Regions from separate parts of the Homo sapiens genome. Here region 1 is linked to region 2. Evidence: fine-mapped expression QTL. Tissue or cell type: whole blood. Region 2 holds a variant in brackets; the other region holds the start of a gene. All regions are shown on one strand. Distances are between the middles of the regions.

Evidence for each region. PIP is the estimated chance that this variant, and not a neighbour inherited with it, causes the effect.
Region 1: it holds the start of MRPL14, and the variant in region 2 is fine-mapped to the expression of MRPL14 in whole blood (INTERVAL, PIP above 0.99).

What each region holds. Positions count from the first base shown.
Region 1 is chr6:44,124,131-44,131,867 of GRCh38, reverse strand. MRPL14 (mitochondrial ribosomal protein L14) reads left to right here and starts at 4,416. Exons shown (of 3, transcript NM_032111.4): 1 at 4,416-4,524. It overlaps TMEM63B (transmembrane protein 63B), which reads right to left and starts at 4,314. Exons shown (of 24, transcript NM_018426.3): 1 at 4,190-4,314. RefSeq lists silencers at 3,634-3,793, 3,974-4,083, 4,124-4,523, 4,544-4,593, 4,624-4,683 and 1 more.
Region 2 is chr6:44,101,606-44,109,342 of GRCh38, reverse strand. No RefSeq gene overlaps it. Among named protein-coding and RNA genes, the nearest start is that of MRPL14, 22 kb to the left of the region's middle. RefSeq lists enhancers at 1,430-1,929, 2,767-2,936, 4,779-4,948, 6,051-6,599, 6,600-7,149. The variant T/C (reference allele first, on the strand shown) is at 4,110.

The sequences.
Region 1 (7,737 bases), 23 kb before region 2:
AGGTTTTGGTTGAGGTGTGTCCAGAGAGTGATGGAGCATTTTACTTCTAGCTAACTTTTTAATTTTACCATTAAGGAGTGTGTGCATGGTGGGGGTTGGAGAGCTATAACTTATAAGCTTTTTTTTGGGGGGGTTGTTGTGTATTTTTTTGAGACGGAGTCTCGCTCTGTCACCAGAGTGGAGTGCAGTGGCGCGATCTTGGCTCACTGCAACCTCTGCCTCCTGGGTTCAAGGGATTCTCCTGCCTCAGCCTCCTGAGTAGCTGGGACTACAGACACATGCCACCACGCCCAGCTAATTTTTGTATTTTCAGTAGAGACAGGGTTTCACCATGTTGGCCAGGATGGTCTCGATCTCTTGACCTCATGATCTGCCCACCTCGGCCTCCCAAAGTGCTGGGATTACAGGAGTGATATAAGCTTTTTCAGTGGAGTTACTGGGCAAGATTTAAGTTAGGGCTTTGGATCAAAGCAAGGCCATGTGGTCTGAGGGGAGGAGGGGAAGATGGAAGCGAGCTCTGTTACTACGAAACCTGAGTCTCAGTCTTCCAATCTGTAACAAAGAGATACAAATATCCTTACTCTACCCCTACCCACTTCAGAGAGAAAGGCAAGAATATATCCACAAGTGAGCATAAAAGTAGTAGTAGGTGCCAGGCACGGTGGCTCACACCTGTAATCCCAGCATTTTGGGAGGCCGAGCTGGGCAGATCACAGGGTCAGGAGTTCGAGACCAGCCTGGCCAACACAGTGAAACCCCGTCTCTACTAAAAAAATACAAAAATTAGCTGGGTGTGGTGGCATGCGTCTGTAGTCCCAGCTACTCGGGAGGCTGAGGCAGGAGAATCACTTGAACCCAGGAGGCAGAGGTTGCAGTGACCTTAGATCATGCCACTGCACTCCAGCCTGGGCGACAGAGTGAGACTCCATCTCAAAAAAAAAAGTAGTAGTAGGCAGGGTGGGGTGGCTCACCCCTGTAATCTCAGCACTTTTGAAGGCCAAGTGGGGAAGATACCTTGAGCCTAGGAGTTGGAGGCTGCAGTCAGCCATGATCATGCCACTGCACTCCAGCCTGGGCAAGAGAGCAAAACCTTGTCTCGAGGGGAAAAAAAAAAAAAAGCCAGGCATGGTGGCTCACACCTGTAATCCCAGCACTTTGGGAGGCTGTGGTGGGAGAATCACGTCAGCCCAGGAGTTCGAGACCAGCTTGGGCAACATAGCAAAACCCCGTCTCTACAAAAGATACCCCCCACCACCAAAATTTAGCTGGGCATGCTGGTGCATGTCTGTAGTCCCAGCTACTCCGGAAGCTGAGGTGCGAAGATCACCTGAGCCCAGGGAGTTCCAGGCTGCAGTGAACCAAGATCATGCCACTGCACTCCATCCTGGGCGACAGACAGAGACCGTGTCTAAAAAAAAAAAGGAAAGAAAAAAGAAAAACAGAAAAAGAAAAAAAAGTAGTAAAATAATAGTATTAAATGTTTATTTAACTCTTCTTTTGTGCCAAGCACTGTTCTAAGCACTTTACAAATGTAACTCATTTGCTCCCCATCACAACCCCAGGAGGACACTGAGATACAGAGAGAGTATATGAGCTGCTCAAGGTCACACAGCCAGTCTGTGGTAGACCCAGATAAGGACCCAGGCTGCCTGGCTCGAGTGTATGCTCTTAACCACTGCACTTTGCAGAGTTATCTGCAAACAAGAGCCACTTCCACCAGGGAGCCGGAGGCAGTCAGTTACCACACTGGAGAAATGCCATACCCTATTTCTACCTGCTTGCCTTTCCTCTTGCTTGTAGCTTCCCTCCACTCAGGCCTTGGGTTTGTGATTTCAGGTTCTGAGGCAGGCATAGGGGACAGGCACCATAGTCTGGTGGTTAAAAGCACAGACTCTAGGATGTGACAGACCAGGCTTCTAACCTGGGAAAATTACTTAGTCACCCTGGGCCTCAGTTTCTTCATTTGTAAAATGGGACAATAATCCAGTTGTGTTGTTGTTCTGGGGATTAAACAAGATGACTTATGTAAAGCTCTTAATATAGTTCAAGGCATATAATGGGCTCTAGGAATTAGTTATTGTTATTAATAAGGTATGGAATAAAAGGGGTTGGTTTAGAGAAAGAAAATTGGTAAAAACAAAAATAAGATAAAAACACAGAATGTAACATGATAGAAATATAACAGAGCCCCTCAGTCAGGTTGGGCTTCTTATTTAGACCTAAGGGTTTACACTGTGTTAGGGACTCTGCCACTGAGTGACAGGGAATATTCTCACTCTTTGAACATACCCCATCCATCTGTGGTAGCCTGGGAGGTGGAGGCATGGGAGAGTTATGGGTCAGAAGTTCAGAGATGATAACCCATTATTGATCAATTACCAGGAAGGATGCCAAGCTCTTTACTTCTGTTACCTTGTTTGATTCCCATGATAAAACTTGTAAGGAGGTGGTAGTAACCACACTTTTTTTCTTTTTCTTTTCTTTCTTTTTTTTTTTTTTTTTGAGACAGTCTTGCTCTGTCACCCAGGCTGGAGTGAAGTGCCACAATCTCGGCTCACTGCAACCTCCGCCTCCCAGGTTTAAGCCATTCTCCTGCCTCAGCCTCCTGAGTAGCTGGGATTACAGGTGTGTGCCACCATGCCCGGCTAATTTTTGTATTTTTAGTAGCGATGGGGTTTCACCATGTTGGCCAGGCTGGTCTCGAACTCCTGACCTCAAGTGATCTGTCCGCCTCAGTCTCCCAAAGTGCTGGAATTATAGGCATAAACACTTTTTAATGAAAACTGAGGTTCAGACAGGTTAAGTAACTTGTCAAGGTCACACAGCTGAAGAATAGTAGAGCTAGAATTTGAACGCAGGTCTCTAAGACTCTGCTATACTTGGAGAGAACTTGAATGATGTCCAAGGGGGTTCTTAGTTACCCACTGCCTGCCTTCTGCCTTGCCATGTCCCCATCCACCCACAGGCCAAGACTGCACTGAGTGAGCCAACAGCAGGCCCCAGCATGTGCCACCTGGGGCATGCCAAGGCCTGGACCCTCTGGTGCCCTGGAGGACAATCACGCTGCCAGCACACCCCCACTTGAAGCCTGGCTGACACTCCCACTCCCCACCTCACCCTGGCCTGGGAGGCAGGATGGGCCCCTCTTCAGCAGGTGTTGGGCACAGCCTCATTGCTCCCCGGCTGCTGCAGACTGGTAATGGGTAGGCAAGCCCCAGCCCCCCAGGGCGGTGGAGTGCTCAGGCTTGCCCCGAGCGGCCAGACCTCTGCCCAGGGGACCCAGGCAGGGGGCAGCACAGCGCCCCAAGGGCAGCCAGCCCCTCTGACCTCTCCTCCCCACTTCCCAAGCGTCCTTTCCTTTTCTGGGGAACAAGGTGCCAAGCTTTGGGACTGTCCGCCTTAGGCGGTCAAGACAGCCAGGAGGGACAAAGCGGCGCCCCCTCCCCACAACAGGGCCTTTGCCCCACTCTCGGTTTCGCGTCTGAATCTTTTCCCCACCGCACCCTCCAACGCAGGCCCGGGCGGCTCATGAATGAACTGCACTGTGTGGGGCGCAAGGAGAGGACACGCTCCCGGGGCCGGCCGCCTCTCCAGCCCGCCGACCAGTCAGTCCCCAGAGCCGGGGGCAGCGGCCGGCCTCGTGCCAGCACCTGCGAACCCTGCCCTTGCCCGAGCCCGAGCCCTTACCCCGGACCGGCTTCGGGTGTACTCGCCCCCGGGAGCAGCAGAAAAAATAAAAGGCACAGAAGGCATCGGACTTGGCGACCCCGGGGTCCAAAACTCGGGGGCGGGGGCGGCTAGTTCCCCAAACGGCGGCGGACAGGCGGGGCGCAGCTGGCACCCCCGAGGGTCGCGCAGGGGACGCGCACCTGCACCGGGCAGGTGGGAGAAGAGTGGCACTCGGGGGCCGGGGGCGGGGGTCCCACCCTTTGGGATCTCCCCGGGGCTGGGGAGAGCCGGCGGCGCGTATCTGGACCTCCGGCAGGGGTTGGAGGACTCACATTTGGCTCGGGATGGTGCGGGGTTGGGGGCAGCGCGCGCCACCCCTGGGTCCCGCGGGCCCGGGCACCTCTGGGTCCCGCAGGAGGTTGAAGGGAGGGGACGCGCAGCTGAGTCCAGGTTTTTTCTTTGGGTGGTGGTGGGATCTTCGAAGAAAAGAGCGAGGGCTGGGTAGGGGTCGCGTACTCACCCCCAGGCGCAGACTCGGCTCCGGCTCGGAGCCCCGGGTTGGGGCGGGGCGGGGCTGGGGGAGGGGGAGGGGGAGTCGCTGGGCGGCTCGAGCTCCGGGCTCCTGCGGCGGCCGCGGCAGTGTATGGGGGAGGGGGAGCGGGGGGAGGGAGGGGGAGGGGGCGGAGCCCCGCAGGTCCCGCCCCGCACGCCGGCGCACGCAAGGTGCGCGCGCACTCTCAGATCGCGTCCGCCGGGCTGGGCCTGGCGCGCAGGCGCTAGGAAGAGGCCGCGTGGGGCGAAGGCGGCGCTTGGCTGGTGGGGCCCGCGGCGGGATTTTCCCGGGCGGCGAGAGCGGTATGGTGGGGGGCAGGGGTGGGCGTTAAGTCCTCATTCCCTCCTTCTCCTCTTCCTTTCTCTGCAGTAGGGGAGGCCCACTCCCCGGGGTGAGTGAGGAGAGGCCAGAGTGGGAGGCAGAGCGTCAGTGGGAGGGGTCCCGACGGGGAGGGGGGGGTCCCGACGGGGAGGGGGGTCCCGACGGGGAGGGGAGGCCCCTTACCCGGATCCTCCTCCCTTCCGCTCTCCGTGGGCTGCTTCTGCGACCCCCAAGTCCGTGGCCGGCGCTCACCTGCTTTCCCCGGGTTGCGGCGTCGACTTGGGGAGGGCGGGCTGCGTTCAGCCGTCGCTGGTCACTCCGGAGCGTCTCCTCCGGCTTCTCCGCTTTCCGCGCTCCCCTCCCCTTTCCCAACTTAGGTCTGGAGATGAGTTAGCCAGACGCCTCTGTGGTGTGAGGATTGAGTTTTTGCTTTCACTCTGTCAACGCTGATGAGTGCGCCCTCCCCCAGGCCAGGGGGTTCCCTGGTTTCTTATTTCACCAGAGACTGCATCTACCAGTGATTAAGACTGGAAAGATGAAGGGAGAGACTGAGACTCTTTCTATATATCACCCACACAAATAGATCATAAAGGCACAACGGGCACCAACCTGGTCATTTAATTTCTGGTTCCTGGAGGGGACAAAAAGGAAGTATTGCTTTCCACAGCCGACGATAAATGAACTTTGCCACCGTAAGAGACGGACGGGACTGAATTTATAAAGAGGTTAAAAGGGCATATGACAGACACCTCAGGCTACTTGGGAAACTCTGGGAGTTTGGGAGATAATTAACTCTCAGGGCTGGTGGTGGTGGGGAACTGCCACTGCTGAACAGAAGGACACTGCCCACCTGGGGGGTTTGGATCTTGTAGTTGGTCAGCGTCTCTGCTGTATGCTGGATTTTCAAGAGTTCATTAGTAGCTTGTGGAATGCAACTGTAAGGTTTGATTTATTGCAGTGTTTTTCAAACTGAATCCTATTGGTGAGTTGGAAATCAGTTTAGTAGATCACGGCCACTTGAAATAGAAAATATCAGAGGGTGTTGCACTTAGGGTATTGTTTCTTGACACTTCAGGTGTACACACACGTGTGAGTGTACTAGGAGGTGTTCTACAGTGTGTTTCTGTAGGTCGCAGTGAGAAAAATTTGAAAAGCGTTGTCTCCTGTGCCCTTCTATTTGCCCTCTTGCCTTTCTTTGCCTGAGTTTTCAGTCACTTAAAATTGTCTGAGGATGCAGTTAGCATGCCAGGAATATACAGTAAAGAACAAGGTGGATCTTCTTCACGGAGGTTACTGTGTGAGACGAAAGACAGTTCACTGTTCATCACTGGAAATACTGTACGTGCTACTGAAAAACAAGGATTTTATTGAGGTAAGAAGTTGGTTGGCTTAATTAGGAAGGGCAGTTTTTCAACTGTGAAAGAAAGGAAGATGGAGATGAAGCCCGTTTTTGGTAAAGTGCTTGGTGGGAAGGGTCTTTGTAGGTTTGGATTCTGGGAGTTGTGAAATTGGTGTAATCTGTTGCTTGTGTGGAACAATAAAATTCACTTTGAGGTCAAATAGTATTATAATGGATATCTGAAAAATGGAAGTGGAAGCCATAGTTGTCTGGTTTTTGGATTTCTGAGGATCACTAGAAGGCCTTTTTTTTTTTTTTTTTTTTTTTTTTTGAGACAGTCTCTCTTGCCCAGGCTGGGGAGATCTGGGTGCAGCAGTGCGATCTCAGCTCACTGCAGCTTCTCCTGGGATCTAGCAATTCTTATGCCTCAGCCTCCCGAGTAGCTGGGACTGCAGGCGCGAGCCACCACTCCTGGCTAATTTTTGTATTTTTAGTAGAGATAGGGTTTCACCATGTTGCCCAGGCTGGTCTCCAGCCCCTGACCTCAATCGATCTACGCAACTCAGCCTCTCAAAGTGCTGGGATTACAGGCGTGAGCCACCTTGTCCAGCCAGAAGGCATTTTTTATATGTTTTTATTTTTTACAAAAAGTATAGTTATGAATCTGAGCATGTGGATTCCTGAACTATTTCTGCCTGTGCCTAATTAGGGTCAGCACCTAATCCTCAAGGAGTGTGTGAGCCATCAAGTGACACTTTCCAGGGCAAGCATTTCAGAAAGCCTGACATGAGAATTAAGTGCCTTGTGGAATCCTTGAAGAACAGTGGCCAAAATATTTTATTATTGCTCCTGAATATTAAAGATAAAATGTTTCCCTTGGGGCGGGGTGGATAACAACAACAAAATTTCCCTGGAGTCCACTTTTCAGGTGGTTGGGCACTGAGCATGGTTATTTAGACTCTTCTTAGCTCCTAGTCTTCAGTGTTGCAAGAATTCTTTAAAACCTATTTTGCTCCATTTATGTCTTTGGGATTATCATGCCTGGGCACACCTAAGGTGGATTTTCCTACTGTCAGGTTACTTGGATAGTTCTTAGGGCTGTAGGGGGGGTCTCGAAAAGCAGGTTATGGTTTAGCCTTCTATTTTATAGGCTCATGGTTTGTCTGGGTTGTAGCTTACCCTGGTGTGATTTTACATGTGTATTTACAGTGACAACTAGTATGCAAGAGAAGACTGCAGTTCAGATCTCAGAAATGTTGTTCTGGGTCAGGTAATATGCTGAATATTTAAAAAGGTCATAGTAAAGTAGCTTACCATTCACCAGTGAAACCACTCAGAGTAGGAGAGCCCTCTGTTAAAAACTCAAAAAATCTTTTATGTCTTAGAAAAGAGAGGAAGTAATTTACCATGTCCACTCTAAACTGAAAACACTTTCAGGGCTATGATCTTAAAGAGGCACCTATGGTGCTGCCCTGAGAATCAGGGAACGAGCTTGCTCTTCCTGGCCAGGATCTGGTAAACAAACTATCCTGCAGATCTAGTCTGTACTGGATAATTCAGAGAAGGATTGTCCACATTAAAATGATCCCTTACATGAGTGAAGCTAAAGCACTTCCATTTCCAGACCTCTTTGCTTTTCCCAATATGATCTCTGCTTGACAGAGAGTCGTTGAGACCCAGACAGGTGATTCCAGGGCCACAGACTTGGTGTGAGAGAAGGGGAGGATGGAGTGAAAGAGATATATGCTTTCCATCAGCAGCACCCTCCCACCCCCATTCTTTAACTTTTTCACACTACTCTCCTGCCTATCTGACATCTTAATAAACCTGGAGCCCACCTAAACCTGGCCCAATG
Region 2 (7,737 bases):
GGGAGCCCAAGGCCGTTCCGCTCCAACCTCCCCGTGCGCAGCCTCCTCAGTGTCCTTGCTCGGGCCTCTCATTGCCTTTCTTGGCCTCTTCTCATGGTCTTTCATTTTCTTTCTCAGTGGCTGAGAAATCTTGTTTTTGACAAAAATTGTATGATACTGGACTCAAATGCTTAACTGAAATTCGAATCTGTACCAGCAGCTGCATGTCTTTTCTTCCTCTAATTTTGTAATTCATACTTAAAATCATGGGACTTCTGTTTCATTCTTTCCCACCGGGAGAATGGTAACGGATCACAATTAAGTTCTTTCCAGCATTTTCGACACCTTCTTGCTGAATTATTTTGCCAAATATTAGTAATTTTCTGAATTATTTGGGCTTCCTGGGCTGAAAGTGGTGATGAGTTTGCTTCTCAACTTTCAGTATAAAGATGGTGATTCCCAGCTAGATTTGGGAACAGTAATCTGTTGTCATTTGCTTGATATTATGGCAGGCTGTTTCATAAGACATGCTGCAGGCATTTTTTAAATGAAAATTAAACTTATTTTATTTTGGTAGTTTCACAAGAACTCTTGAATAATTGTGATACCTTTGGATATTATGAAACCTTGATTGGCAACTGATTTGAGGCCAAGTGTTTACATGCTCAGTAGAGACAGTTCTTGGCCGATCTTGACTGATGATCCAGTGTGTGATCACAGCTGCTCTCCCTGCTCCCCACTGAGCTCCCTGTTGATTGGCACCACTTCTCAGGGGGCTGCCCAGCACAGGAAGAGGAGAGAAAGAGAGACCTTTGGGTGCTGGCCTTCTCAAGGGATACTATACCTGGCCTCCAGTGGGTTTCCCAGGCAGGGAGTGGGCTGTGCTGCCCCATCCCCACAGGCTAACCCAGCGCCCTTCCTGGCTGGCCATGGCTGATGTCTGCAAAGAGGCAGGTACACATGGGTCAGGGAGCAGGGCTTTCATTTGTCCGTGTGTCTACTAGCATCCTGTCAACCAACTGCATTAACTCATCAGTTACACTGCCAGGTCTGGTAAAAGGTTTGCAGGTAAAGAAGGATGAAATCCTTGTCTGAAATTAGGTTTCAAGGTTATCTCTGGATTTTGTTTCTCCAGGCTGGGTCCCCATAATTGAGGGCAAGGCTTTGTTGGAGTTAACTCACCTATAGCTTCAGAACAGTTTATTTCAAAACAAAGCTGAAGTGGATTCCCACCATTGTGGTTTAGACCATTCATGATGACCATGTCGACTTGGGGAGCTGAGGAGCCAACCACATTTCACATATGAGAGTAACAGATTTGGGACTAGAACTTGAGTTTTCTCATGCCCAGTCCAGCTCTTTTCACTGCATCTAACTGTGACATAAGACACCGTTTCACTCTGTTGCCCAGGCTGGAGTGCAATGGCGTGATCTTAGGTCACTGTAACCTCCACCTCCCAGGTTCAAGTGATTCTCCTGCCTCAGCCTCCCAAGTAGTTGGGATTACAGGCGCCCACCACCATGCCCAGCTAATTTTTGTGTTATTAGTAGAGATGGGGTTTCTTTTTTTTTTTTTTGAGATGGAGTTTTGCTCTTTCGCCCAGGCTGGAGTGCAGTGGCACTATCTTGGCTCACTGCAAGCTCCGCCTCCCAGGTTCACACCATTCTCCTGCCTCAGCCTCCTGAGTAGCTGGGACTACAGGTGCTCGTCACCACGCCCAGCTAATTTTTTGTGTTTTTTTAGTAGAGACGGGGTTTCACCGTGTTAGCCAGGATGGTCTCGATCTCCTGACCTTGTGATCCACCCGCCTCGGCCTCCCAAAGTGCTGGGATTACAGGCGTGAGCCACCGTGCCTGGCTGAGATGGGGTTTCAACATGTTGGTCAGGCTGGTCTCAAACTCCTGATCTCAAGTGATCTGCCTACCTTGGCCTCCCAAAATGCTGGGATTACAGGCGTGAGCCACCATGCCTGGCCCGAAAAATACTTTTGAATGGGGCCATACCTGTCCCGCCTGAGGGGCAGGAAGCAGCATTGCTTGTGAGGAGTTGAGAGAATTTCAGCTGCGCTGAGGAGCAGGACTTCCCAAGGCATGTGGACCAGGTGGTTGGAGTATGTGGTGCTGATGGGTCAGAGGGAGGCAGGATGTTTGTGAGCTGTGGTCTGAAACCTCTCCGACCCCTGCATTCCTCACTGGGTCTGAAAGCTTCAGAGCCCACCTCACTGCTTTTTCTTCTGAGTAGGTGCTTCCTCACTGGGATCCATGTGATTTCTGAACCCCCCTGGCAGACCTCTACCTCTATGCAGCACTTTCCAGTTTGCAGTGCCTTCACCTTTTAGTCCTAGAAAGTTTCTTCCAGCCTAGAACTTCTGTGACTCCAGGCCTTGGTGACAACTCTGAGTAGTAGGTAGGGCTGGTGTCCCTGTTTTAAAGATAGGAAACAGTAAGTAAGTGGTAGAGTTGGGCCAGTGTTCTCCTTCCTCTGTGGGGCCCAGGCTGAGCCCTGTTGGTCCTCAGCATAGCACTTCTTACAGCACTTTGAAACTGGGCAAGCCCATGGGCTCAGGAGCAGTCTCTGTCTTGTTCATAGTTCTATCGCTGATGCTTAGTAGATGCACAAAAATATGAGAGCTGAAAAGTTAAAATTTGTATTCTCAATTTAGGAGTCTGCATATAGACATCTAGTATAGGGGTTGGTAAAAATTAAGACATTATGGAGTGTCTACAAGGACCCATGGTGGACAGAGTTGCCTGTCTCCACATAGATCCTTATCCCAAGGGCTTCACCCACACTGGCCAGATGCCCAGTGTTTTCTGTTTCCCCATTAAACTCCAGTTTATGACTCCAGTTTAAGATATTCTATGATGTCTATAACTGCTTAAGCTGGCACGTATTTTTACTCTTCATGTTTAGGGGGAAAAAAAAGGCTGTACAAGAGATAAGGCAGTGGTTCTCAGCTGGGGACATTTGGCAATGTCTGGAGATAGTGTTGGTTGTCACAACTGGGGGCAGCATCTAGTGGGTAGAGTCCAGGGATGCTGCTGGCCATGCTACAATGTGCAGGACTGCCCGCACAACAAAGAACTCCCTGGCCCCAAGGGTTGACAGTCTTAAGGGTGAGACTAGGTGGGACCTGTTGTGTATAAGGAGGACAGAGAGCATCTGGGAGTCATAGTGAGCCAATGGTTCATAAATAGTGGTGTAGAATTACAGGAATGAAGCCACATTGCAATCCATGGAGATATGCACTTGATCACTGTTTATCTGCTGATTGCCATGATTTGGGCCCTAAAGCTGGAGTAGGTGTTGGAAAATGTAGAAAGGCTGCAGTTTACTGAAGGGTTGAGGCCAGCAGTCAAGGCCATCGGAGGATTGGGGCCATTTGGCTCACAGAGTGAGGTGGGGAGAACTGGTCCACATGATTGCATGTGCAGTGCTCTGGGTGGGGGGTTGAGGCCAAAGCTTTAGCTTGGGCTCAGCCACTGGCTCGCATCTCAGGTCACTTTAGCTGGTCACATTTCTCAGAGCTTTGGTTTCTGCCTCTGCCCTTACCTCTCAGGACTGTCTTAGCAGTGGCACCAGCAACCTTCCTGCCTTACAAATCTTACAACTTTGGAGTCACTTTTGGGTTTGTCCTACTTTTCTCTTTTCTTTTTTTTTTGGAGACGGAGTTTCACTCTTGTTGCCCAGGCTGGAGTGCAGTGGCACGATCTCGGCTCACCACAACCTCCACCTCCCGGGTTCAAGTGATTCCCCTGCCTCAGCCTCCCGAGTAGCTGGGATTACAGGCATGCGCCACCACACCTGGCTAATTTTGTATTTTTAGTAGAGACGGGGTTTCTCCATGTTGGTCATGCTGCTCTCAAACTCCAGACCTCAGGTGATCCACCTGCCTTGGCCTCCCAAAGTGCTAGGATTACAGGCGTGAGCCACCGCGCCTAGCCTCATTTTTGTTTTTTACGAAGTCCTGTCCATTCTCCTACAGCAGCAGTGCTGTTCCTTTTCCTTCTGGAACTTCACATTTCAATCCAGGGCTCTGACCTGGTCTTGGCATGCTGCCAACTTCTTGCGACAATCTGGCTGCCCACCGAGGTAGAAACCACATCTCTTTCAGCCTTGGTCTGTGGCA[T/C]ATGGTAGTAGGAACAGACAAGAGAAACCAATTTATTGAGGGCTTGCTTTATGCCAGTTTTGTGCTGGACACTTTGCATATTCTCTTCCAAGTCTTCACAATGATGCCGTGTGATTATTGTATCTGATTTATGTGTGAGAAAACCCAGGCTGAGAAGAGTTAAGGGACTTGTAGTCAAGTGGCAGGCTGAGATTTGAAGTCAGGACCACCTGACCACATTTCTTCTGCTTTTTCTGCTGCACTGACCTGTGGTGGAAATATTTCTTGGTAATGTGCCTTCCCTCAGCTATTAAAATAGTTTTCCGGAAGCATCTGTTGGATGACCATTGTGGATACTTGTAGTTACTTCCAGTTGCCTCTTAGGTCAGCACCTTCCGGCCCAAGCTGAGGTCAGTGCTTCCTGCTGGAGGTTGGCTCCTGGCCTTATTTAACACCACTGTTTCCTGTCACTCCACAGCTTGGTCATCTACTCTGCCAAGGAAATGGGCCAGTCTTCATTCTCTGCACTTAGCCAACTGGGGGCTTCCTGGGTCTTGGCTCACCCTGGAGCTGTTAACACCCATTTTCAAGTGGGTTCCTAATGTTTGCTGAGTGAGTTATCAAGTGAAGAAAGAGTGTGGGTTCTTCCCCATCCCCACAAAGGGCCACCACTCACCTCCAGACCCAGTTCCTCATCTGGAAAACCCAAGCTAAGGAAGTCCCTTGCAGCCTGGCGGAGGAACTCTGCTCACTTGGTGCTCTCAACCTGGAGGCGGGGGTTTGTCCCACTTGGAGACCTCGACTTTGCTCATTGCTTCTCCAACCCTGTCGGTACTGTTGCTGCCTTTACACCGGCATAAGCCATGCTGACCCCACAGGTGAGCCTTGGCACATCTTTGGCCTGGAATGTTGTTTTCTCCTTGGAGAAGTGGTCGGTCTGTGGAACCCTGCTCAGGGTGTCTCATCAGTGAAGTTCTGTTCAATTGACATTGGTTGAGCCCTGGGTTGGACATCTTAATCTGTCCCTCGGGGTCCCTCTCACCCTTTTCCACCCTGCCCTGTGCCCCAGGAGGCTGACCTGTATGGACTGCATCAGCGGGCTCCCATTCCTGCAGGGCTGACCACACTCTTCAGTCATATGTCACAGCCCCTCAGGCAGTGCTCTACACTCTTGGGGCCTTGGCGTCAGGGCACTACAGCACCCACTGTACTGGTCCACACCTTTGTAAACAGTCCCTTTGTTAAATTCTCCTCACATTATCCCAATTCAAGTGGCCCCTTGTTGCCTGCTTGGACGCTGACTGATGCAAACATTTACTGTGTGTGCCCAGATGGGCAAAATATGGATCTTGCCCTGGAGAAGCTCTCAGAAGGGAGACAGATCCATGAGCAGTTTCTGCCTCCTGCAGCAGGTGACAGGAGCCCATGTGCTGTGGCAACACTGACCCAGGAGGGTCAGAAAGGCTTCCTGAGGAGATGCCCAGAGCCTGGAAGCTGGACAGTCAGAGTTAGTCAAGTGACAGGCTGAAGTGGGAATACCCTTTCATCCCAGCCAAAACCAGAGGTGTGATGCCGGGTGGGATGTGCCGGGACCTGCCAGCTGTTTGAGGTACCTAGAGGGTTGCAGTGGGGCTGAGGTAGCTGACGGGCCAGGCCAGGGAAGGCTACATAGGTTGCACTAGGTGCTGGGACTTTAACCCTGTCACTGCCCTGCTTTAACTGGCCAGTGGCTCCCCATCCCAGATGGACATTTATTAAGATCACTCAGCTGCTGTGCAAAGAACCCCTCTAAAAGGGTTGGTATGAAGGACCAGGAAGGGAGCAGGGAATTCAGTAAATTCAAGAGATGGCCAGGCGCGGTGGCTCACGCCTGTAATTCCTGCACTTTGGGAGGCCGAGGCGGGTAGATCATCTGAGGTCAGGAGTTTGAGACCAGTCTGGCCAGCGTGGCGAAACTATCTCTACCAAAAATACGAAAATTAGCTGGGCGTGGTGGCATGCACCTGTAATCCCGGCTACTCGGGAGGCTGACACAGGAGAATCGCTTAAACCCGGGAGGCGGAGGTTGAGTGAGCTGAGATCGTGCCACTGCACTCCAGCCTGGGTGACAGAGCAAGACTTCGTCTCAAAAAAAAAAAAAAAAAAAGGAAAACAAAACAAAACAACATAATACTCTGGTAAGGCAAGGCAGGGATGGAGGACAGGAGTTAAGAAAGATTTGAGGGAAAATAGCTATTTAGTAGGTAGAAGTAGCTTGGCATAGAGAAAGGACCATGCTGGGAAACAGGGCAGGGAGTTCAGAAATTCAAGTTAGCACTATCAAATTATCTTGGGATAGGTTATTGAGAGGTGGGCTTTGTATTCAGAGGAACTTCATAGTGAAGGAGAATGGGGTAGGGGGTTGGGGGTGAGCACAGGGCAAGCTGCAGGCTGTTCCTGTGGAGGGGAGCTGGGCCAGCTCAGCTGCTGACTGGTGGAGGCCTGGGCTGAGGCAGGGAGGGGAGATGCCTGCAGCAGCCAATGCACAGCTGGGGGTCTGGTGAGACTGTGTGTGATCTGGGCTACAGGGCTTTCTCTCCTGCTGGCCTGTGCTGCCTCTCGCCCTGCCCTTGTGCTCTGGAGCTGCCCCTCCTCTGAGCCATGTCCAAGAAATAAAGCGCATCCATGCCTCCCTGCACCTGCAGTCTTAAACCTGTTGGGCTACTCAATTGATAAACTTCCCCTGAGGTGGAATAGGCAGGATCTGGTGAAAGTTTGGAGGTGGATGGAGGTGAGGGTACCTTCTAGGGCTCTGACTTGGTGGAATGGATGGGGCTCTTTATGGAGTTCAGGATCTTAGGAGGGGAGAGAGGAGAAGGCAGGGAATTCTTTTCTGCTTGTTTAGTTGCAAGTGTTTTGTTGACAGTACGGTACACCAAACATAAGGTCGGGGGTGAGAATAGAGGGAGAGAGACTTGAGAGGCTTCAGAAATGCACGGTGCTTCTAATCATGAGGTCACCCAACGAGAGGCTGGGGAGAGAGGCGCAGTAAGCCAGGGTGGAGCGCTGGAGAAGCCGATGTTTAGGAGGCAGGTGGGCAGGAAGAAGCTGGGTGGGGAGTCAAGAAGACAGTCAAGGAGATGGGAGGAGGACTGGGGAAGTGGAGTCCTGGAAGCCAGGGAGGTGATGTTCCAAGAGGAAGTGGTCAACCTCAACAGATGAAGTGAGGCCTGTGGAGGGACAGGTGGAGTGGCTACAGGCCATCACTGGTGAAGCAGTGGGGTCAGGCAGCCTGTGGTGGGGTGAGAAGGGGGAAGTGCAGGTGACTTCTGCAAGAAGCTTGGCTGAGAAGGGAAGGAGAGAGATGGGCTGTAACTGGAGGTCGACATAAGGATTTTAGGATGGGAGACACCTGAGCAACTCTTCTTGTAGACAGGTGGTTCTCCCCTTGTTTCGAGGGGGTCTTTGGTAAGAATATGTTGGCACAGTAAGTTACTAAGAGATCAATATCATCAAGAGAAGGCCCACTAGTATGATCTGCATTTTACCCTGAAGGCTGTCCGGTGACGCCCAGACCCAGGGAATTGGGATCAGGCTGCCTGATGGAGAGCCTAGGCTCTGCATGGAGACCCCTGGGGGGACCCCTGGGGCTTATCTGACTTGGACGAAG